Linked DNA regions of Homo sapiens. The gene in region 1 interacts genetically with each later gene. Each region holds a gene or a part of one and is shown in the gene's direction. Other genes may lie near its edges. The genes, in order: ATXN10, MTERF3, CDK12 and UBA2.

The links.
Region 2: changes in ATXN10 (region 1) and MTERF3 together harm fitness less than expected from each alone (positive genetic interaction), as found in Homo sapiens cells (one large-scale study listed by BioGRID).
Region 3: changes in ATXN10 (region 1) and CDK12 together harm fitness less than expected from each alone (positive genetic interaction), as found in Homo sapiens cells (one large-scale study listed by BioGRID).
Region 4: changes in ATXN10 (region 1) and UBA2 together harm fitness less than expected from each alone (positive genetic interaction), as found in Homo sapiens cells (one large-scale study listed by BioGRID).

What each region holds. Positions count from the first base shown.
Region 1 is NC_000022.11:45,678,043-45,684,128, forward strand, and holds part of ATXN10 (ataxin-10), read left to right. Parts: intron 1-6,086. UniProt on the Homo sapiens protein: May play a role in the regulation of cytokinesis. May play a role in signaling by stimulating protein glycosylation. Induces neuritogenesis by activating the Ras-MAP kinase pathway and is necessary for the survival of cerebellar neurons.
Region 2 is NC_000008.11:96,240,099-96,245,538, reverse strand, and holds part of MTERF3 (transcription termination factor 3, mitochondrial isoform 1 precursor), read left to right. Parts: intron 1-1,458; coding exon 1,459-1,620; intron 1,621-5,440.
Region 3 is NC_000017.11:39,515,915-39,522,000, forward strand, and holds part of CDK12 (cyclin-dependent kinase 12), read left to right. Parts: intron 1-1,525; coding exon 1,526-1,642; intron 1,643-4,041; coding exon 4,042-4,173; intron 4,174-6,086. UniProt on the Homo sapiens protein: Cyclin-dependent kinase that phosphorylates the C-terminal domain (CTD) of the large subunit of RNA polymerase II (POLR2A), thereby acting as a key regulator of transcription elongation.
Region 4 is NC_000019.10:34,437,178-34,443,263, forward strand, and holds part of UBA2 (SUMO-activating enzyme subunit 2), read left to right. Parts: intron 1-1,467; coding exon 1,468-1,589; intron 1,590-6,086. UniProt on the Homo sapiens protein: The heterodimer acts as an E1 ligase for SUMO1, SUMO2, SUMO3, and probably SUMO4. It mediates ATP-dependent activation of SUMO proteins followed by formation of a thioester bond between a SUMO protein and a conserved active site cysteine residue on UBA2/SAE2.

The sequences.
Region 1 (6,086 bases):
AAAGTAGATTAGAGGTTACTAGGATTTGGAGAGAGGGGAAATTGGGAGTTACTGCTTCATGTTTACAGAGTTTCTATTTGGGTGTTAAAAAAAATTTTGGAAGTAGAGGTGATAGTTGTACAACATTGTGAATATAATTAAAGCCATTGAACTGTAGACTTAAAATGAACAACATGGCAAATTTTATGTTATATATATGTATTTTACCACAGTTAAAAAAATTAATAATACAATGTACCAAAATCCATTTAATTGTACGCTTTAAGTGGGTGACTTTAGTGTGCCACGTGAACCCTATCTCAATAGTGCTGTTATAAACAAATCCATAGTAAGGTGCCTCTGCATCCCTATTAGAATGGCTATAATGAAAATGAGTGACACTGAATTTTGGTGGGCATGTGAAGCTATATATTTATGATTTTTAAAAAGTCACATTGTTTGGAGTAGAGGGGATGTGTTTAAAATGTGAACTCCTCCCTCACTGCTATTTTTGTTTCATAATAAAATAGCCTTTTATGTATCTTTTTCCCTACTCAGTAGTGCCTTTCTTGAAGGGAGGGACTTTATGGTGTTTCTTAGCAGGGTGCCTGGCCCATTTTGGGTACTCTGTAAATGTTGAACTGAACTGAATAGAGCAATGAAGAGCCAGTAGCTCCAGTGAGCCAATCAGTAATTACTCAAATTGCTAAAATGCTATTGATTAGTTTACCATGTAATTCATTCATTGACTCACACCACACATGATACATGTAAGATCTGTGCTTAGTGCTGCAGCTGTGATTGATAGGATAAAATTAACTATGTGTAGCTTACTTTGAACTACTGACATAGGAGTAGCTCACATGCTATTAAATTATTAAATTTAATACATTTGTAATTTGCTAAAAATGTATATTTGTAATTTATATTTACAAAATAAATTTGTAAATTTGTAAATATAAATGTCTTAAGCCTTCATTCCTTTGCTTATACACACTCTTCATTTTCCCTCAAGGTTGAGTTACCATTTCACTTCCTTTTGAAAGCCGTTTCTGACCTTCAGGTGCTTTTGCCCTGTATTCCCTTGGCACTCTGTGCTTACCTCTTTCAAAGAACTTCACATAATCACTTAATTACCTACCAGTCTCACTAGAGTGAGAGCAGCCCGAGGCCAGGACTCTTATTTACCTCTGTTTTCAGTACCAACTTTCAGGCCTACCACATAATGAGCATCCAATAGTATTTTTATTATTTTCTTGAACACCTGATTTTCTTGAGCCATGAGAGAGAAAATGAGAGCATACAAGAAAGACTTTAATTAGGAGGGGACAGGAAACGTTAAATATGACAGATGACTGATTTCAAGGGGTAAAAAATGACTTGGTATTGTTACTTGGTTGTATAAATATGTTGACTAACCTTCATAAAGAAAGTGAATAGATTAAGCACTTTAGAGGTCAACATACCACAGAGGTAAAAAATAAACCTATCCATCTGTGTATACACACGCACATGGATTTTCCCCGGACATTACTGAGCCTCTGGGCAGCAAGTGTCTTTAACTACACCAAAACACACAAAAACCCAAAAAACAAAAACCCACACGAGTCGTCAGCTTGGCTGAGGACGCCATATGGCGTTTTGACTCAACCATGATTCAGCTCAACTTTGTTGAGAGAGAACATCAATTAAGTTACACTATAAAAAGCATATTTTAGAGTGTGCTGGCAATTTCCTTTATTTTTACCTATGCCATGAGCTGGAATGCTACATGGAATTGTTTGGTAAGGTGTTCTGACTCAGCTTCAAAATACAGAAGTGGTCAGTGTGAGCCACCTCATACATTCAATTATCTTAAATGCATGAAGTAGACAGGAAAGAGTTTGAGCCAGCCGAAATAAATAAAACCAATCGAAATAAATAAGGTTAGGATTGTGACCACCAGTACCCTCAGAGCAGAGTTTCTCAGCTCTTTCATTCTTCCAGTCTTTTGTAGTGGTCACTGGACCCAAGGGCTTGGTCACTGGACTGTGGGCAATGACACTCAAAAGCAAAGGAACTGTGGGACTACCAGTAGGGTGAGCTGGGCCCTGTGATGGCCACAAGCTTAGAGAAGTTATTAGAGTTAACGAGATGATCCATAAGTGGGGGATGCTCTTTCATTATAGCTATTGAGGAGTTTGTGTACTGCTTAGAACAGTGTCTGGCACCTAATAGACACAGTTTAAGTGTTAGCGTTTTCGTTGTTGGTGTCATTGTCATCATCATCATCAATGAGAATATTATAAAACTATCAAAAGACATTTAAAAAGACTTAAGTGGTAAGATACACCATTGTATTATAGGAAACCTCAATAACAAAGACATCAATACCTCCCAAATTGACCTGTGGATTCAATGCCATTCATAATAAAATTGCAGCAGGGTTTTTGCTAGAAATTCACACAGATTTTCTAAGTTATATGAGAAACTCCTAGGTTTTCTCTTACTCTCTGAACTGTCATCCCTTTAAGGCTTTTTTGTTTTTTTGAGATAGGGTCTCACTGTGTCACCTAGGCTGGAGTGCAGTGGTGCCATCACAGCGCCACCATGCCCCGCTAATTAAAAATTTTTTTTTTTTTTGGTAGAGATTAGCTCTCACTATGTTTCCCAGGCTGGTCTTGAACTCCTGGGCTCAAGTGATCCTCCTGCCTCAGCCTCCCATAGTATTGCGATTACAGGTGTGAGCCACTGTTCCTGGAACCCTTTAAGGTTTTTTTACATGAATCCTCTTCTGACTCCCCAGTTCTTAAGATCCTTCTCTATGCCCTCAGCAAAATTCCCTGTATCCTGAACTTCTGTAAACATCCATTCATCTTCTTGATCTAAATGAAATATGGCTCTGAGGACATGCCTTTCCCAGGGTTCTTGAAAGTGGGAGGCTGTTTTCTCTCCTGCACTCAGTACAATGCTTGGCTCAAAGGTGTGGTAGTTCTCCTTGATTGTCATTGCTGCTTTCAGACCTTTTTCCTCCATAGACCACTCCAACTTTTAATCTCATGACATCAGAGTATCCCTTGTTTAATCACTTTTGTGGTTAAAAGAGACCTTTGGGTCAGTCTGCCTCATTCCTTGAAGAGTTTAGCCCTGGCTCACTTTTCACTCTATTTCTTCTCCTGTCTTAAATCTTCGTTATTTCATTGTTTATATAGATTTTCCTTTCATTATCCTGACCTCGAATTTCTTTGACTTTCTCTCCCTTAGTGAGCTTGACCTCCATCCCATCTCAGACACACATTGCCATACCTTACTTAGACTTTATCCATAACTGTAGCTGCCTTCCCCCACAATCTCGAGTCCCAATCCCTGTTTTATCTTCTCTTTAGGGCCCTTGCTTCATCAAGTCTTTAACCTCACCAGGACCTACAGTCTTTTGACCCTATTTCCTATTTACTACCCCTTTTGTTTTTCATTCCCCTTCTTAATGTTCACATTCCCATCTTGATCTGGCTTAGATCCATGGATGAGTAATAAGAGCATTTTTTAATGTACATCCTCAACTCCACTGCCTCCTCTCTAAACTTTGTTATGTTTGCCTGGTAAAACTCCAGCTCTGGTCAAATCCAACTTGTTACCTTTGCGACAGTACCCAAATAGCTGAACAAGGCTAGAGAAAAACATACAGCCGTGCAGACTGCTCTCACTTTAACTTGCTGATCACTAACTAACGTGGCCCTTAATGCTACCTGTCAGTCCCGCTGTTTGCCCTGGTCCCTTGACTCTCCTGCTCCCCGAGTCAGGTATTTCATGCTCCACCCTCTTCAAACCTCCATCCCATCTCCCTCATCCTCACTCTCAGCTCTCTGAAAATAGGAGCAACTAGAAGATAATTTCCAGGAACTCTCATCACCCTCTCTGCCCACCTACTTGTATCTGTGCCCGTAGCCTGCCTTTGCTTCTGGTCTGTGGATTAGCGATCTTGCTCTGAATATGAGCTCCCCTTAAGTTTGCACTAAATTCCATTGCCTTTTGCACACATTGCTCCAGCAGTCTTCTTCTCTCCCCCCTTAAAAATCATCAGTTTTACCCTTTCTATTGGATTGCACTCATCAGTTTATAGATCTGCTGTAATTTTTCCATACTAAGAAAAATCTCTCCCTCCATTTCCCTGAGTGATAATCCTTCCCGGATCTCAGAACTCAGTCCTCAGACCTCTTCTCTTTTCTGCCTATATTTACTTTCAGAGTATTCTCACTCAATCTTGTGGCTTTAATAACTTCCGTTTGCTGGTGACTAACATTTTTCTTTAGCTGGACTTCTTTGTTTTTTTTTTTGAGACAGGGTCTCGCTCTGTCACCCAGGCTGGAGTGCAGGGGCACGATCTGCAGCCCTGACCTCCCAGGCATAAGCAGTTCTTCCACCCCAGCCTCCCTTGTAGCTGAGACTACAGGCATCCACCACCACACCCGGCTATTTTTTAAATTTTTTTTGTAGAGACAGGGTCTTACCATGTTGCCCAGTCTGGTCTTGAACTCCTGGCCTCAGGTGATCCACCCACCTTGGCCTCCCAAAGTGCTGGGATTACAGGCATGAGCCACTGCACCTGGCTTAGCTAGATTTTTCTCCTGAATGCTAGACTTGTTTATTCACCTGACTACTTCACATTCTACTTGTATTTCTACTGATCCTCTCATCCACCAGATATCCTCAGAGTACTCTTGTTTCTGTAAACAATAAATACATCTTTCAATTTATGGCTCAGGCTAAAGTTTTGATGTCATCCTTCACTCCCCTTTTTTAGACACCCTCATAAGAATCCATCATCAAGTCCTATTGGCTCTATCTTTAAAATATCCAGAATTTGATTTCTGTTTACCGTATCTGCTGCTTTCCCTCTGCTCCAAAAACAGCCCCCTAACTGGTCTCCTGCTGTCGTCTCTTTCTCCCTTTAAGATTGATTCTTTACAAAGCAGCCAAAGAGATCCTTTTAACATGTAAGTCAGATGATGTCACCCCTCTGCTCAGAACCTTCCATGGGCCGGGCACGGTGGCTCACGCCTGTCATCCCAGCACTTTGGGAGGCCAAGGCAGGTGGATCACCTGAGGCCAGGAGTTTGAGACCAGCCTGGCCAACATGGTGAAACCCCATCTCTACTAAAAATACAAAAATTTGTTGGGCATGGTGGCACATGCCTGAAATTCTACCTACTTGGGAGGCTGAGGCATGAGAATTGCTTGAACTTGGGAGGCGGGGGTTGCAGTGAGCTGAGATCCTGCCTCTGCACTCCAGCCTGGGCAACAGAGCAAAACTCTGTCTCAAAAACAAAACGAAAAAAAGAACCTTCCATGGCTTCACATCAGGATAAAAGCCAGCGTCCTTCCGTGGCCTACTGTGCCTGTCCAGGGTGGCTCTGTCTTGTCTCTCTGAGTCGCACTTCTCTTTTCTCACTGGGGTTCATTGAAGCCAGCCCTGACTTCCCTGTGACGTGCTCTGTATGCCTTTGCCTCTAGTCCAAGCTCTTCTCCCAGCAAGATGCATAGTTGGCTCCCTCACCTTCTTTGGATCTGTGCTTAAATACTACTTTTAAAATAAGGTTTAAATAATATCTTATGTACAAAATCTTTCTCTAAGCATGTAAAGACATTCTCCTTATATTTTCTTCCAAAGCCTTGCAATTTTGTCTTCCATGTAATTCCTAAATCCACCTGGAGTTACTTTTTGGGTAGTGTAAGTAAGGATCCAATTCAGTTTTTTTCTTTTTAGATTAACAGTTGTTACAGCACCTCTTCGAGCACAGTCCATCTTCCCCAGGTCTTTAATGCTATTGATAGATGCCATTTACCAAGTTACCATGTATACACAGTTCTGCTCTTGGGCTGTCTTTTCCAGTGGTTGACTTTCTGCCTCTGTGCTAATTTCACCTTTTCTTAGCTTCTCTTTCATTTTCTTCTCTTTTCATGTTTTCTTAGAGACAAGGTCTCGCTGTGTCACCCAGGCCTGAGTGCAGTGTTGTGATCATAGCTCACCATAGCCTTGAACTCCTGGGTTCAAGCAGTCCTTCTGCATCAGGCTCCCAAGTAGCTGGGACTACGAGGCACAGACCATCAAGCCCAGCTAATTAAAACAA
Region 2 (5,440 bases), on another chromosome or scaffold:
ACCTGGGCAGTGTTACCAGTCTACGAAAGTACTCCTGTTGGCCAGCATGACAGTCTGTGTATGTCTCAGGGAGTTTTGGAGGCTGGATCCAAAAGACTTCTGTGAAAAGAGTAGCAGCCAGCACATTGTTCTCCTTTGCACCTGTCCCAATTGCCAGCTCTCATTCTGTCACAGAATGTACCAGACACTCTTTACTGTCCTTCCTCCAAGAGAATAAGATAAAGCCAAGAGCAGCTGACTAGTTAGTATATAAAGCTGTAGTAGTATTTGAAATATTATATAAGGGCTGTTTTCTGAGGTGAACAGTTCAGTCATTGAAGAAATCTTTTTATTGAGCTCCTGCCCAAGCGCCATGCTGAGGAGACAGCTTCTCCTCCCAAGGAGCTTACAATCTAGTGGGGGATCAAATCCAGAGTGATGGGGGCAGTTACTTGGTGGGGGCACACAGGACACTATGAAAGCAAGTAGAGGACCCGGCCTGTGTTTGGTTGTTTAGTTCCTCATCTCTGCTTGGAATGTTGACATGTCGTTTTTCAGACAACACATATGTGGGTGTACTTGGGAGCAAAAGCTCAAAAAGCATTTTGAAGATCCTGCTGCTGAAGGATCTGTTTGGTGTTGGGCCCATGCCTCTGACCTGCAGCGCTCCCATGTCACTCATTCCCTCTTGTAATTATGGTTGCCCCTTTGGTGAGCTTCATGACCATCATGGTGTAGCTCTTTCTCAGCAGAGGGGTTTGAAATTCTGGTGACCCCAGGAGCCGGAAGCTGTAATTCCTTGAAGGCACTGGCATAGCTGTCTCCAAATTTTAAAATGTTATTTTAAGTTTAAAAGAATCATGGTCAGGCGTGGTGGCTCATGCCTGTAACCCTGGCATGGGAGGCCGAGGTGGGCAGATCACTTGAGGTCAGGAGTTTGAGACCAGCCTGGCCAACATGGTGAAACCTCATCTCTACTAAAAATACAAAAATTAGCCAGGCATGGTGGTGGGCACCTGTAATCCCAGCTACTTAGAAGGCTGAGGCAGGAGAATCACTTGAATCCAAGAAACGGAGGTTGCAGTAAGCTGAGATCGTGCCACCGCACTCCAGCCTGGATGACAAAGCGAGACTCCGTCTCAAAAAAAAAAATCATGGCCAGGCGCGGTGGCTCACACCTGTAAGCACTTCGGGAGGCCAAGGTGGGTGGATCACTTGAGGTCAGGAGTTCAAGATCAGCCTGGCCAACATGGTGAAACCCTGGCTGTACTAAAAATACAAGAATTAGCCAGGTGTGGTGGCATTCCTCTGTAGTTCCAGTTACTTGGGAGACTGAGGCAGGAGATCATGCCACTGCACTCCATCCTGGGCAACATAGCGAGCTCCATCTCAAAAAAAAAAAAAATCAGTGCAGCCTTGCCATGGTACCAAAATAACTATTTCTACATAACGATTCATAGCAAATTTACTTTCTTTTAGGTTTATCGTCTTGAACTTGGTTTTAAACATAACGAAATTCAACATATGATCACCAGAATCCCAAAGATGTTAACTGCAAATAAAATGAAACTTACCGAGACGTTTGATTTTGTGCACAATGTGATGAGCATTCCCCACCACATCATTGTCAAGTTCCCACAGGTAATGCCACTCACAGCTCTCTCTGTAAGCGCTGCCATTGCGCTTCATTTGGAGCTGCTCTCCAGCTGCATAGTTCTGTACGCTGGGAAGAGTTTACAATTTGCAGGGCGCAAATGTCCATCTCCTGAGGAGAAATCAGTGATTAGTCTCTTTCCCTGGAGTTTCTACCTAGTCCTAGTTCTGATTGTTGGAATCAGGCCAACAAATCTAATGTAGTCTCTCTTCTCTCTCATGTTTTTCTCTACTTTACTTTGGAATAGATCACTTCCCTTAAAGGTCCTTTCACTGCTACGTGTACTTTTTAGTCACAGTTTATTTAAATTCATGAATCAATAAGCCATATTGTAATGATCCCCATCCCAATATAAAAGTGATCCAGTTTGCCATCATGCCAAAGCCGTAATTATATTTTCTAAGCTAATCAAGCTTCCATATTCTTTACCTAGTGAGTGATATTATCTGCTGTTCACAAGAATATTAATCTTGAATATTGACTCTTTAAAAGCAGAAACTTTGTCTGATTTATACACTGCCAAATCCTCAGTGCCTAGAACTACACCTGGCACTAAGTAGGCACACAATTAATATTTGTTGAACAAATGAATGATTGGATTTTATCAAAGTAATCCTTTTTTCCTATTTCCTATGCAAATAGCCACTCAGTATTTATTGGATAAATGACAAACTGAATTTTTATTTAAGTGATCCCTCTACTCCATTTGCTAGAACACATGTTCCTGTTTTTGAAAAAAGATGGGTAAAAGAAATATGACCTTAATACAACTCTCAGAACTAGACTGCATTAGGTCCAGTTCCTTCACATACAGCTATATTTATTTGCCTATTATACTTCACTAGGAACGGGCCTCTAATATAGGATTTTCCTATTTTACCAAACGTAAATATACCCATTATAGAAGTGTTAGAAGCCTACAGTTTTGTGAATTTGGCTCATGGAGTAATTGTGAAATAATCTTCAACGAAAAAGAAATGACAATTTGTTTTTCCCTGGGTTGGTGGGTAATTCATTTTTCCAGTATATCACTGAGCATCCATCAGTGCTACACATTGGGCACTGAGGATACAAAAGTCAAGCAGACATGATCTCTGTTCTTGTGGAACTTATAATCGAGTGTGGAAGACAGGTTTAAAAATAGAATTGCTTTATATGATGGTAGAGTCCTAACCAGAGCTCCTACAGTGATTTAGAAGCGGTAGGAGAATTATAGAAGTAATAACAGCAATTGAGTACTTACTGTGTGCCAGCTCTATCTTTATTGCTTTATTTGTATTAACACAGTTAATTCTCACAACAACCATATGAGGTAGATGCTATTATTACCCCTATTTTACACATAAAGAACTTAAGCTTAAAGAGATTTAAGTAACCTGTCCAAGGTTACCCAAGTAACAAGGTTGGGGCAGAACCACGATTAGAACTCCAACAGTCCAGTTTAAAAACCCAAGCCCTTTACTAGGATCTGCTAGAAGTACATTTGAATTGTCTGTAGAAGAGGGAGTGGTGTTTAAAAGATGGAGAGGAGCTTTCCAAATAGAAGAAATTATAAGCTGACCAGATGCATCAAAATCACTTAAAAACACAGATTTTAGGCACCCCAAACCCTTGCCTCAGAGAAGCTCTGTTGTAGAATTGTGGCTTCCAAATTGGGATTCTCAGATTCCTAGAGTCTAGGTGGAATTATTGGGGAATAAAAACAGAAAAATAAAAAGCTTATTAATGAAAAAATACATTAACGGACAGTAAGGCTGTGAATGGGCTGATATAGACTTTACATTTTTGGCTGGTGTTTAAATCTCAGTGGCATGGAACTAATTTTCTCATGTAGATAATATTCCTGGTTGGCAGATCTGACTTACGATTAATTAAAAATGGGGAAAGAAGTATAACTTAATAACTATGATCAATTTAGTCATTTCAAAGAAGAGATCTTGGAAGGTAAAGGATAACAAAAGCAGTTTTAGGGTAATGAATGTGAAGAAATCACTAGGCTAAGGAAAGAGGTTATATTCAGGATCCCCCGAAACCTTCACTCTCCCCTTCCTCTGTGACTTTCTGTGAAGGCAAAGTTGAAGTCCACCTTAGGATTAGAGGGAACCAATAATTCTCAGGCTAGGGGCACTTTTTTTAACTCCGAAGAATTTAATATGTCATTAATAGGATGAAATTTTTGTGCCAATGGCAAAGTAGCCCCTGGTGGCCAACAACTCTCCCCCCACACCACCACATCCATAAAAAAAGAAGGGAGAAACACCGCAATCTGAGCAGTAGCTTTTGGACTTGAAAGAGTACACAACTCTCTAATGATGGAGTAACTTTGGTCCACTGGAGAAGTAAACGTATAATATCTGCTCATAAGCTAAATAAATGCTTTGAAGTGTTATTATATTTAGGAAATTAGTAATCGTTTAGGAGCACCAGAACCATTTGTGGTTTTGTCTGTTGTTGGGTGATAGTTTTTTTTTGTTTTTTGTTTTTTTTGTTTTTTTTTGCGATGGAGTCTGGCTCTGTCGCCAGGCTGGAGTGCAGTGGCGTGATCTCGGCTCAGTGCAACCGCCGCCTCCCGGGTTCAAGTGATTCTTCTGACTCAGCCTCCTGAGTAGCTGGGACTACAAGCGCCTGCCACCATGCCCAGCTAATTTTTGTGTTTTTAGTAGAGACGAGGTTTCACCATGTTGGCCAGGATGGTCTCAAACTCTTGACTTCGTGATCCGCCCACCTTGGCCTCCCAAAGTGCTGGGATTACAGGTGTGAGCCACCGCGCCCGGCCGGGTGATAGTTTTTTAAGCCAAGAATCACTGCATAGGAGTCATACTTCTAAAAAAAAATCTATCTAAAACCTCTTACATCTTCGTTATCCATAATATTGTGATCATGGGAATTTAGTTATCAGAACAAGGGCAGAATAGCAGAGACTGAGAAGGGAGATGTTCTGTTCCAAAAGCAAGCCAAACCCATGTTGAGGTACACCCTGTGCTTTTTTTAGTCACTCTTCTCATAGTACTTTGGTTTTCAACAATTGCTTTTCATAGTGTCCTTTCCAACTGATCTGTTACTGTTTCCACTTGAATATAGGGAAAGAGGCCTAGGGGTTATGTGAACGCATCCCGTGTTCACATTATATCTGTAACAGCCAAGAGGAGAGCTTGAGGCAGGCATAATATTGAAAGGGCTTCCTCTGAGCCTCATCGGGGAACCTCACAGGTCTCTCAGGCTTCAGGGCTGTAGCTCAAGTCTGGCCGGATCTCCCATTTGTCTCTTCTTTCTGTAGCTGGCTGTAGAGCCTTGCCTGCTTCTGACTCCTTTCTAAAGTTGCTGCCGCTTACTCTAGTTTTTAGGAGTTTTACTTTGAGGCAGGTAAGACATACTTTCCCTAGTTGCTCTCCCAGAGGTCAGATTCATTTCATTTTGATTCTAGTTAAGGGGAGGAGTGCAAATTTTAAAAAAGGGAGAGAGAGAGGTGTTACAGATTATGAAATCTTATACATTTTTATATAATAACATCTTAATCTCTAACATTGGTTCTCAAACTTGGTAGATATCAGAATCATCTAGAGGGCTTGTTAAGACAGATTTCTGGGTTCTGCTCTCAAAGTTGCTGATTAAGTAGTTTTGGGGTGAGGCTTGAGGATTTGCCTTTTTTTTTTTTTTTGAGATGGAGTCTTACTCTGTTGCCCAGGCTGGAGTGCAGTGGCGCGATCTCGGCTCACTGCAACCTCCGTCTCCTGGGTTCAACCAATTCTCCTGCCTCAGCCTCCTGAGTAGCTGGGATTACAGGCATGCGCCACCACGCCCAGCTAA
Region 3 (6,086 bases), on another chromosome or scaffold:
CAAGTAAGTTTCTCTTTACTCAGTCAGGTTTACCATATATTTTGTCATAGGCTATACATATAAAGAAGTTTTATTTCACCTAATTTTTAGATCTTACTTTGCATATTTTTTATTAGCTCTTCATATAAAAGCATACCATTTTGGGGATGGCTCTTCCATTCATAGCTCAGATGAGATTAAATTTATTCAGCAAACATTTATTGAGCCTGTTATACAACAGATTACTTTTAACATTAAACTTTAGGATTCAGAGATAAAAAATAGGTCCCCGCCTTCAAAGAATTCAGAGTTTAGTAAGGTATATAGCATGTAAATAGTTATAAAATACAACCTATAATAGAAAATATGGGGAAAGCCCAGGATTGGGCTGGCATTTGGGTGGGTTTGTTTTTGTTTTGTTTTTTTCAATAAAATTAAAGGGAAGAATATAGCAGGCTAATGTTTTTTGTATTTTTTTTTTTAGACAGGGTCTCGCTCTGTCACCTAGACTGGAGTGCAGTGGTGTGATCATAGTTCACTGCAGCCTCAAACTCCTGCACTCAAGTGATCCTCCCACCTTACCCTCCTGAGTAGCTTGGACTACACCTGTAGTCCCAGCTATTTTTCGTTCATTTGTTTTGTAGAGATAGGGTCTCATTATGTTTGTTGCCTGGGCTGGAACTCCTGGGCTCAAACAGTCCTCCCACCTTGACCTCCCAAAGTGCTGGGATTACACACGTGAGCCACCACACCAGCCTAATGCAGACTTTTTTTTTTTTTTTTTTTTGAGATGGAATCTTGCTCTGTCACCCAGGCTGGAGTGCAGTGGCGTGATCTTGGCTCACTGCAAGCTCCACCTCCCAGGTTCAAGCCATTCTCCTGCCTCAGCCTCCCGAGTAGCTGGGACTACAGGTGCCCACCACCACACGCGGCTCATTTTTTTGTATTTTTAGTAGAGACGGGGTTTCACCATGTTAGCCAGGATGGTCTCGATCTCCTGACCTCATGATCCGCCCACCTCGGCCTCCCAAAGTGCTGGGATTACAGGCGTGAGCCACCGTGCCCGGCCAATGTAGACATTTTTTAAAGGTGATAAAGGTGATATTTTTGTTGTTGTTATTTGGTAAACTGTTGATTATCTCTCAAAATTTTCAGTCTTATACTCTCTTCTCATCTCACAGTTTACCCTATAGGGATACTATAGGATCATCTTAGCCCTTTGTAATTACTACTAACTGAACAGAACAAAACTGGTAATAAAAACCTGTATGGGGGGATTAAAACATTTCACAAATCCAAATAATGTGGATCATTTAGGATTATTATCCGAGTATTTTTTCTTTCCTCTGTTATAACCAGTTCTTTCTGTTCTCTGCCTTTCTGCCCTTAAAGCAGTAATGTCATATTTTCCTTTCTGCATGCCCTGTAATGTAATAACCAAAGATTCCCCAGACCTCAGGAGGTAATAATTTCTGCTTCTGAAACCTCCGGAATTCATGATGTTGACTCACTCACTCCATTGTTCTTGCTTTTGCTTTGTTTTCAGCCGACTTTGTGGTAGCCCTTGTCCAGCTGTGTGGCCTGATGTTATCAAACTGCCCTACTTCAACACCATGAAACCGAAGAAGCAATATCGAAGGCGTCTACGAGAAGAATTCTCTTTGTGAGTTTGGGGAAAATGAACATCTCGTTTCTGTGTCTGGCTGGTGTTGGGACTTGGCTTTTTCCTGGTCTGGGTAGTTAATGTTGTCCCAGTTTATCATGGCAACACAGTGTAGGAAAACATTTTAGTTTCGAACAGTATATGAGTTTTATCATAGCCCTTTTGTAATTTTCTCTTCTGAAGGCTTTAGACAATAGAAAACCATTTTATTTTGAACAATATATAAATTTTCTCATAGCCTTCTTGATCTTTCCATGAGAAAAAGAGAATGGAATTGTTGGCTTCATGGGTTTTGTTTGTTTGTTTTTTAAATTGAGACAGGGTCTTGCTGTGTTGTCCAGGCTGGAGTGCAGTGGCACGTTTAGGGCTCACTGCAGCCTTGACCTGCTGGGCTCAAGCAATCCTCCCACCTTAGCCTTCATTTTTTTTTTTTTTTTTTGAGACAGAGTCTCACTTTGCCACTTAGGCTGGAGTGCAGTGGCATGATCTTGGCTCACTGCAACCTCTGCCCCCCAAGTTCAAGTGATTCTCCTGCCTCAGCCTCCCAATGTAGTTGGGATTAGAGGCCTCTGCCACTGCACCCAGCTAATTTTTGTATTTTTAGTAGAGACAGGGTTTCAGCATGTTGGCCAGGCTGGTCTTGAACTCCTGACTTTGTGATCCACCCACCTCTGCCTTCCAAAGTGCTGGGATTATAGGCGTGAGCCTCTGAGTCCGGCCCCACCTTAGCCTTCTGAATAGCTGGGACCACAGGCACCCGCCACCACACCTGGCATTTTTTTTTTTTCCGTGTAGAGATAGGGTCTCCTAATGTTGCCCAGGCTGGTCTTGAGCTCCTGGGCTCAAGTGCTCTTCCTGCCTCAGCCCCCCAAATTGCTGGGCTTAAACTTTGAGAGGCTGAGGCAGGAAGATCACTCGTGCTACCACGCCTGGCCATGTTTTGGTTTTGTTTTCTTCTTACTTTTTTCCCTCTCTGTTATTTTATTTTACTTTTTTTAACTTTAATAGATGGATAGAACTGGCCATATTTTTGTGTGTGTCACCCAGGTTGGAGTGCAGTGACGCGATCTTGGCTCACCACAACCTTCGTCTCCCAGGTTCAAGGAATTCTCCTGCCTCAGCCTTCCAAGTAGCTGGAATTACAGGCACCCGCCACCATGCACAGTTAATTTTTGTATTTTTAGTAGAGATGGCATTTCACCATGTTGGCCAGGCTGGTCTTGAACTCCTGACCTCAAGTGATCTGCCCACCTCAGCCTCCCAAAGAGCTGGGATTATAGGTGTAAGCCCACCACACCTAGCCAGAATTGGCCATATTTTTTACTTGTGTTATAGCACAGCATTTCTCGTTTGTTTGTTTTTGAGATGGGGTTTCGCTCTTGTTGCCCAAGCCAGAGTGCAGTGGCATCATCTCGGCTCACTGCAACCTCCGCCTCCTGGGTTTAAGTGATTCTCCTGCCTTAGCCTCCTGAGTAGCAAGGATTACTGGCACGTGCCACCACACCCAGCTAATTTTTTGTATTTTTAGTAGAAACGGGGTTTCACCATGTTAGCCAGGCTGGTCTCGAACTCCTGACCTCAGATTATCTGCCCGCCTCGGCCCCACAAAGTGCTGGGATTACAGGCATGAGCTACTGTGCCCGGCCCAGCATTTCTTAAATCCTGTGTGGGAGCAAATCTGCTTGCTTGTGTTAGCCAACCTCCAGCTTGCTTTCTTTGGTTTTACATGGAAATTCAAAGACTTTTTTTTTTTTTTTTTTTTTTTTTTTGAGACCGTCTCACTCTGTCACCTAGGCTGGAGGAGTGCAGCAGTGTGATCTTGGCTCACTGCAACCTCCGCCTCCTGGGTCCAAGCGATTCTCAGCCCTCCAAGGAGCTAGAATTACAGGCGTGCATCACCATGCCTGGCTAATGGGGTTTCACTATGTTGGCCAGGCTGGTCCTGAACTCCTGGCCTCAAACGATCCACCCGCTTCAGCCTCCCAAAGTGCTGTGTGGGACTGTAGGCATGAGCCACCATTGCACATCCTTTTTTTTTTTTTTTTTAAAAAGAGATGGGCTCTTGCTCTGTTGCCCAGGCTGCAATGCAGTTGTGCAGTAAGAACTCATTGCAGCCTCAAATTCCTAGGCTCAAGTGATTTTCCAATGTCAGCCTCCCAAATAGCTGAGACTACAGGGTGCACAGCATTGCACCCAGCTAATTAAAAATATATATATATTTGTAGACATGAGGTTTCAGTATGTTGCCCAGGTTGATCTCAAACTTCTGGCCTCACGCAGTCCTACCTTGGCCTCCCAAAGTGCTGGAATTACAGGTGTGAGACCCTTTGAAACAAAATTACAAATTTGAGAACTGTAGGGTCATTGTGAACTTGTCCTTTCTGTGTTCTTTTCCATAGCATTCCTTCTGCAGCACTTGATTTATTGGACCACATGCTGACACTAGATCCTAGTAAGCGGTGCACAGCTGAACAGACCCTACAGAGCGACTTCCTTAAAGATGTCGAACTCAGCAAAATGGCTCCTCCAGAGTAAGTGCTGGTAGCCATGTTGTGACCCTAAATCTTTCCCTGGGCCTTAGACGATGAGAAACTCATAAAAGAACCACAGATGCCCAGTAAGACCCAAATGAAGAGGTGTCTTTGAGTATTATGGTTGAGGTTTGTTTTTTTTGTTTTATCTTTGTTGTTTTTTTCTTTATATAAGTAATAGATTTAGCTTTGATACTTGTTCTAATTTGACTCAAGCTATCTTCTTTTGTCCCTGGATCTCCATCCCAGAATATTGTTGTGTAGAGCCTCTTTGAAAGTATTCCTTTTAGATTTTTGTGGGTTGGTTTATTTATTTATTTATTTATTTTTGAGATGGAGTCTCTGTCGCCCAGGCTGGAATGCAGTGGTGCAACTCAGCTCACTGCAACCTCTGCAGGGTTCAAGCGATTCTCCTGCCTCAGCCTCCCGAGTAGCTGGGACTACAGACACACACCACCACACCCAGCTAATTTTTGTATTTTTAGTAGAGACGGGGTTACACCTTGCTGGCCCAGCTGGTCTCGAACTCCTGACCTCAGGTGACCCACCCTGGCCTCCGAAAGTGCTGGGATTACAGGCGTAAGCCACTGCGTCCAGCGTGTTTTTGTTGTTGTTGTTGTTGTTGTTGTTTTGAGATGGAATCTTGCTCTGCCTCCTCCACCTCCCGGGTTCTAGCGATTCTCCTGCCTTAGCCTTGCAAGTAGCTAGGATTACAGGTGCCTGCCACCACACCCGGCTAATTTTTTTGTATTTTTGTTTCATTTTGTTTTGTTTTTTGAGATGGAGTTTCGCTCTTGTTCCCCAGGCTGGAGTACAATGGCGCAATCTCAGCTCGCCGCAACCTCTGCTTCCCAGGTTCAAGCGATTCACCTGCCTCAGCCTTCCCAAGCTGAAATTACAGGCACGTGCCACCATGCCCAGCTAATTTTGTGTTTTTAGTAGAGACAGAGTTTCTCCATGTTGGTCAGGTTGGTCTCGAACTCCCGACCTCAGGTGATCTGCCCACCTCGGCCTCCCAAAGTGCTGGGATTACAGGCATGAGCCACAGTGCCTGGCCATTTTTTTGTATTTTTAGTAGAGATGGGGTTTCACCATGTTGGCCAGGCTGGTCTTGAACTCCTGCCCATCTTGGCCTCTCAAAGTGCTGGGATCACAGGTGTGAGCCACCGTGCCTGGCCTGTTTGTTTGTTTGTGTGTTTTGAGACGGAGTTTCACTCTTCGCATCCAGGCTGGAGTGCAGTGGTGTGATATTGGCTCACTGCAATCTCCGCCTCCCAGTTTCAAGCAATTCTCCTGCCTCAGCCTCCCAAGTAGCTGGAATTACGCCACCATGCCCGGCTAATTTTTGTATTTTTAGTAGAGACAGGGTTTCATCACGTTGGCCGGGCTGATCTTGAACTCCTGGCCTCAGGTGATCCGCCCGCCTTGGCCTCCCAAGGTGCCGGGATTACAGATGTGAGCTACTGCTCCCAGCCTTTTTTGTTTTTTCCGAGACGGAGTCTCGCTCTGTCGCCCAGGCTGGAGTGCAGTGGCGTGATCTCGGCTCACTGCAACCTCCATCTCCTGGATTCAAGCAGTTCTCCTGTCCCAGCCTACTGAGTAGCTGGGATTATAGGCGCAGGCCACCACGCCCGACTAATTTTTTTGTATTTTTAGTAGAGACAGGGTTTCACCATGTTGGCCAAGGTGGTCTCAAACTCCTGACTTCAGGTGATCTGCCTGCCTCAGCCTCCCAAAGTGTTGGGATTACAGGCATGAGCCACCACTCCCAGCCTTTTTTTTTTTTTTTCCAATTGTAGAAATGGAGTCTCACAATGTTGTCCAGACTGTCTCAAACTCCTGGGCTCAAGTGATTCTCCCGCCTCAGCCTTCCAAAGTCATGGGATTACAGGCAGGAGACACATGCTTGGCCT
Region 4 (6,086 bases), on another chromosome or scaffold:
TCTCAAACTCCTGACCTCAGGTGATCCGCCTGCCTTGGCCTCCCAAAGTGCTGGGATTACAGGTATGAGCCACCACGCCCGGCCAGACATTGCTTTTTATATCCTTGTTACTGTGATTCTGACACACCACTGTGTATTAAGACTGAAGGTGGCTGGGCATGGTGGCTTACGCCTGTAATCCCAGCACTTTGGGAGGCCAAGGCGGGCGGATCACCTGAGGTAAGGAGTTCGAGACCAGCCTGGCCAACATGGTGAAACCCCATCTCTACTAAAAATACAAAATTTAGCTGGGTGTGGTGGCACGCACCTGTAATCCCAGCTACTTGGGAGGCTGAGGCAAAAGAATCACTTGAACCCGGGAGGCAGAGGTTGTGGTGAGCCTAGATCACGCCATTGCACTCCAACCTGGGCAACGAGCGAAATTCCGTCTCAGACAAAAAGAAAAAAAGAAGAGACTGAGGTTAGGAATATCTGAGATAATGAAAGATGATTCATTTGATAGTTTTGAAAAGTTGTCTCAGGTGTCATGTACTTCTTCCAAGGCATAAATTCCTTAAATTGTAATTTTAAACTTGAATGTGTATCAATAAAATGGGCTGGGCGCAGTGGCTCACGCCTGTAATCCCAGCACTTTTGGGAAGCCAAGGCGGGCGAATCACATGAAGTCAGGAGTTCAAGACCAAGCTGGCCAACATGGAAAAACCCCGTCTCTACTAAAAATATGAAAATTAGCTGGGAGTGGTGGGAGATGCCTGTAATCCCAGCTCTTTGGGAGCCTGAGGCAGGAGAATTGCTTGAACCTGGGAGGCGGAGATTGCAGCCAAGATTATGCCACTGTACTCCAGCCAGGGTGACAGAGCAAGACTCCGTCTCCCCACCGCCAAAAAGAAACGTATATCAATAAAATGAAGAGTATTTGGTTTAGTAACACCTAAGATTTTTCTGTGTAGGGAGATATATCTTGAAATTAATCTTGTAGTTTACTTAATTTCAGGAGATTATAAGGATATGGCTGTATTCCCCAGACCCACTTAGTTTTGCTCAAAAAAAAAAAAAAAACACATATAAGAAAATGGCTGCGAATAATATTTAGATAACATTTACAACTTTGAGAAATAATTTCTTGGAAAGCTGCTGTTTGTCTTTCCAGTAGTTTTTCTGTTTAGTGTGATCAAGGTAAACTCATATTTGACACTCAGGTGTAGTAATTTTTATTTGGGCTTGTAAGTCATGTTCACTGAACCAGGAGTCGGCGTCCTGGCACAGCCTTAGCTATGACTGGTAGATTCAGTTAGCTTTTGTGTTAGTTTATCATAAAGTAAGCATTTTGGAGTCACTAATATTTTAAAATTTCCTTGACAACGTAAAACGTAGTTGGAATATAGATGAATGAAGTGTTTATATTACCTTATAATGTTGAGAAACTGCCATCATGGAGTAAATTTTTCTCATATCCTGACTTCATAGGGTGTGACCGAGTGTTATGAGTGTCATCCTAAGCCGACCCAGAGAACCTTTCCTGGCTGTACAATTCGTAACACACCTTCAGAACCTATACATTGCATCGTTTGGGCAAAGTACTTGTTCAAGTAAGAGTGTATATTTCTTGGCATGCTTTTCGGTACTGATGATGGAAAATGGAGTCATTTTTATTTAATTACCTTGAAGAGATTGAACTCAGGATGTTTAAATATGGTGAAGGGATGCTTTAGTAGCTTTCTTGCAGTATTTCTTAGGTTAAATGTAGCTGGCCGGGTGCGGTGGCTCACACCTGTAATCCCGGCACTTTGGGAAACTGAGGTGGTCGGATCACCTGAGCGCAGGAGTTTGAGACCAGCGTGGCCAGCATGGTGAAACACATCTCTACTAAAAATACAAAAATTAGTTGGCCGTGATGGCGAGTGCCTGTAATCCCAGCTACTCGGGAGGCTGAGGCAAGAGAATTGCTTGAACCCAGGAGGTGGAGGTTGGAGTGAGCCGAGATCGCGCCACTGCACTCCAGCTTGGCAACAGAGTGAGAATTTGTCTCAAAAAAAAAAAAAAAAAATGTGGCCATGACTGTTCAGGAAACTTAGTCTTATATTGGAGACAGCCATGTAACTAAGCGATAAAAATCTTTATATTTGGAAATGTGAACATTTACTTACAAATAACCCATTGGTTATAAAAGAAATCACAATGGAAGTTAAAAATACTCTGTACTGATAATGATGAAAATGCTATACCAGAATGTATTGAATGTGGTGGTTGGCAAAAAGTTACAGATTTACATACATGAAGAAAGGCTGAACATTAATTACTAAATCTTTACTAAGAATCCAATTTAAGTTAGAAAATGAACCACAGAATACACTTTAAGAAATGAGAATGGTGTGGGCATGGTGGCTCATGCCTCTAATCCCAGCACTGTGGGAGGGTGAGATGGGAGGATCCCTTGAGCCCAGGAGTTTGAGACCAGCCTGGGAAACATGGCAAAACCGTGTCTCTACAAAAAATAGAAAAATGAGCCAGGTGTACCTGTACTCCCAGCTACTTGGGAGGCCGAGGTAGGAGGATCAGTTGAGCCTGGGAGGTTGAGGCTGCAGTGAACCGAGATAGTGCCACTGCACTCCAGCCTGGGTGATAGTGAGATCCTGTCTTAAAATGAAGAAAGAAAGAAAAAAAGAATGAGAAGGAAGGATATTAATTGAAGTAAGAGCACATTTGATTACAAAATAGAAGAGGAGTAAGTGAGAACTAAACGGGGAATACAGATAGCAGAGATTAAATAGGCTATAAGAAAAAAAAGGGATGATAATAAGACCATGGTAGTACATAAAAAATTTAAATGATCTGGGTAAATACATTTTTAAAAACTTACTAAGTGCCCAGTGCGGTGGCTCAGGCCTGCAATCCCAGCACTTTGGGAGGCTGAGGTGGGTGGGTCACTTGAGGCCAGGAGTTTGAGAACAGCCTGGCCAACATGGCGAAACCCCGTCTCTACTATAAATACAAAAATTAACCAGGCGTGGTGGTGGGCATCTGTAGTCCCAGCTACTTGGGAGACTGAGCCATGAGAATCACTTGAACCCAGTGGGTGGAGATTGGGCCACTGCACTCCAGCCTGGGGGACAGCATGAGATGATGTTTCAAAAAAAAAAAAAAAATGAAAGGAAAATAGAATGCCTGAATTTAGCAGTATACCTTAGAGCAATGTAAGTAGTTTAAATTATTCTAAATAATGCACCGAACCTATGTTATTTTTACAGATTCATTTCACAAAACTTGCAAGGAGTATATTGTAATATTAGCTAAACTCTCCCTGAGAAATTTTTAAAAGGGAATACTACTTAGCTTGTGTTATTAGGCTAGCAATGTCTTTGATAGCAAAACCTGTCAAGGCCATTATGGCATAAGAAACAATTGCTAGTCAGTCTCACACCTAAATAATAGATGCAAAAATCCTATGTAAAATATTAGCATATCCTGGGAATGGGCGCAGTGTATCATGCCTGTAATCTCAGCACTTGGAAGCTGAAGCGGGTGGATCACCTGAGGTCAGGAGTTCAAGACCAACTTGGCCAATATGGCGAAATCCTGTCTCTATTAAAAATACAAAATTAGCCGGACATGGTGGTGGGCGCCTATAATCCCAGCTACTTGGGAGGCTGAGGCAGGAGAATTGCTTGAACCCGGGAGGTGGAGGCTGCAGTGAGCCGAGATCGCTCTGCTGCGCTCCAGCCTGGGCAACAGAGCAAGACTCCATCTCAAAAAAAAAAAAAAAAAAATTACCATATGGATCTAGAATCATATAAAATAAAAAGTGTGTCTTGACCACGTGTCTATTCAGGAATACAAGCATGGTTTAAACTAGAAAATCTGTAAATGTCATTCACTCATTAGGAAATTAAAGATAAACTATATAGTTTTCATAGATACAGAGAAAGCATTTGGTAAAATTTAGCAAATGGCCTTTCATGATGAAAGTTTCTACTAAAACAGAATAAAAACTTACTAGGCCGGGCGAGGTGGCTCACGCCTGTAATCCCAGCACTTTGGGAGGCTGAGGCGAGCGGATCACGAGGTCAGGAGATCGAGACCATCCTGGCTAACACGGTGAAACCCCATCTCTACTACAAATAAAAAAAATTAGCCGGATGTGGTGGTGGGTGCCTGTAGTCCCAGCTGCTCAGGAGGCTGAGGCAGGAGAATGGCGTGAACCCGGGAGGCGGAGGTTGCAGTGAGCTGAGATTGCACCACTGCACTCCAGCCTGGGCGACAGAGCGATACTCCGTCTCAAAAAAATAAAAAATAAATAAATAGATAAAATTAAAAATAAAAAAACTTCTTACTAAAATGAGAATGTTCTCAACCCGATAAAGGGTATTTTGTAGAAACCTTCAGCAAACATTGTCTTTAATTTTTGCACTCAGAAAAGTATACATAACAGTGTCAACTTGATAAATGTTCACAAAAACTACACTTGGAAGCTTTATTTATTTGGCAAACATTTTTTTTCTTTGGGAGGCTGAGGTGGGTGAATCACTTGAGGCCAGGAGTTTGAGAACTGCCTGGGCAACATGGCGAAACCCTGTCTCTACTAAAAATACAAAAATTAGTGGGGTGTGGTGGCACACGCCTGTAGTCCCACCTACTCGGGAGGCTGAGCCATGAGAGCCGCTTGAACCTGGGAGGCGGAGGTTGAAGTGAATGGAGATCATGCTACTGCACTCCAACCTGGGGGACAGAGCGAGACTGTGTCTCAGAAAAAGACAAAAAAAAAAAAAAGATAATGTGGCCAGGTGCAGTGACACACACCTGTAATCCCGGCTCTTTAGGAGGCCAAGGCAGGAGGATTGCTTGAGCCCAGCAGTTTGAGAGCAGTGTGGGCAACATAGTGAAACCCCATCACTACAAAAAATTTAAAAATTAGCAAGGCATGGTGGCACATGCCTGTGGTCCCAGCTACTTGGGAGGCTGAGGTGAGAGGATCACTTGAGCCTAGGAGGTCGAGGCTGCAGTGAGCTGTGATCACACCACTGCACACTAGCCTTGGGGACAGTAAGACCCTGTCACACACACAAAAAAGATAATCTGGCAAAATTAATATGAGCAGCATTTTTCACTCGAAGGGAAACCTAAATAAGCAATAAGCAAGTTATGTTTTAATCATAAGACTTACTTGGAAAATTAAGTATAAGACCATAGTAAGCTACAGATGCTTCTCAGATACTTCCCGATAAACTCATCATAAATAAAAAATACCATTAAGTAAAAAATGATGCTTTTTTTGTTGTTGTTTTTTTGAGATGGAGTTTCGCTCTTGTTGCCCAGGCTGGAGTGCAGTGCAACTGCAATCTCTGCCTCCTGGGTTCAAGCGATTCTCCTGCTCAGCCTCTCGAGTGGCTGGGATTACAGGCGTCTGCCACCACGCCCAGCTAATATTTGTATTTTAGTAGATACAGGGTTTCACCTTGTTGGCCAGGCTGGTCTCAAACTCCTGACTTCGGTTGATCCACCCGCCTCGGCCTCCCAAAGTGTTGGGATTACACATGTGAGCCACCACGCCCAGCCAAAAATGCATTTTAATATAACCTCAATAAACCTGTTGTAAAGGTGAAAAATCATTGGTGGACCATTTTAAATTAGCGGCTGTCTACTATTTTGCACTCACTAGTTGGCAAAGCGTTAATTTTAGGAAGTGTTAACATGCCATTGTTGGGAGTGACTATCAGAGCTTTGAAATTATAGTTGGGTGGGGGGTTGTACAAAGGATTTCTGTAAGATAACTTTCATTAATCATATACTTGAGGAAATACTGGAAACTTTTATATCCATGAGTTATTAAACAGTTTTTAGGATAACTTTATTAATAAAAGAGAATCTCAGCTTAATACTTTCAAATTGTTTGTTAACACTCTGTTCAGCAGTAAAGAGCCATTCTACCATGAAAAAAAGTTAATCTTGTTCATTGCTGAATTTCTATCCCCTAGATGGGGACTCTGCACCTGAGGTATATAATAATGTTTGTTGAACAGGTAGCTGCAGGTGTAAACACAAACATTATTCTGGTGTTAGAATGTTATCCAGGTTGTAAGTGAAAACCA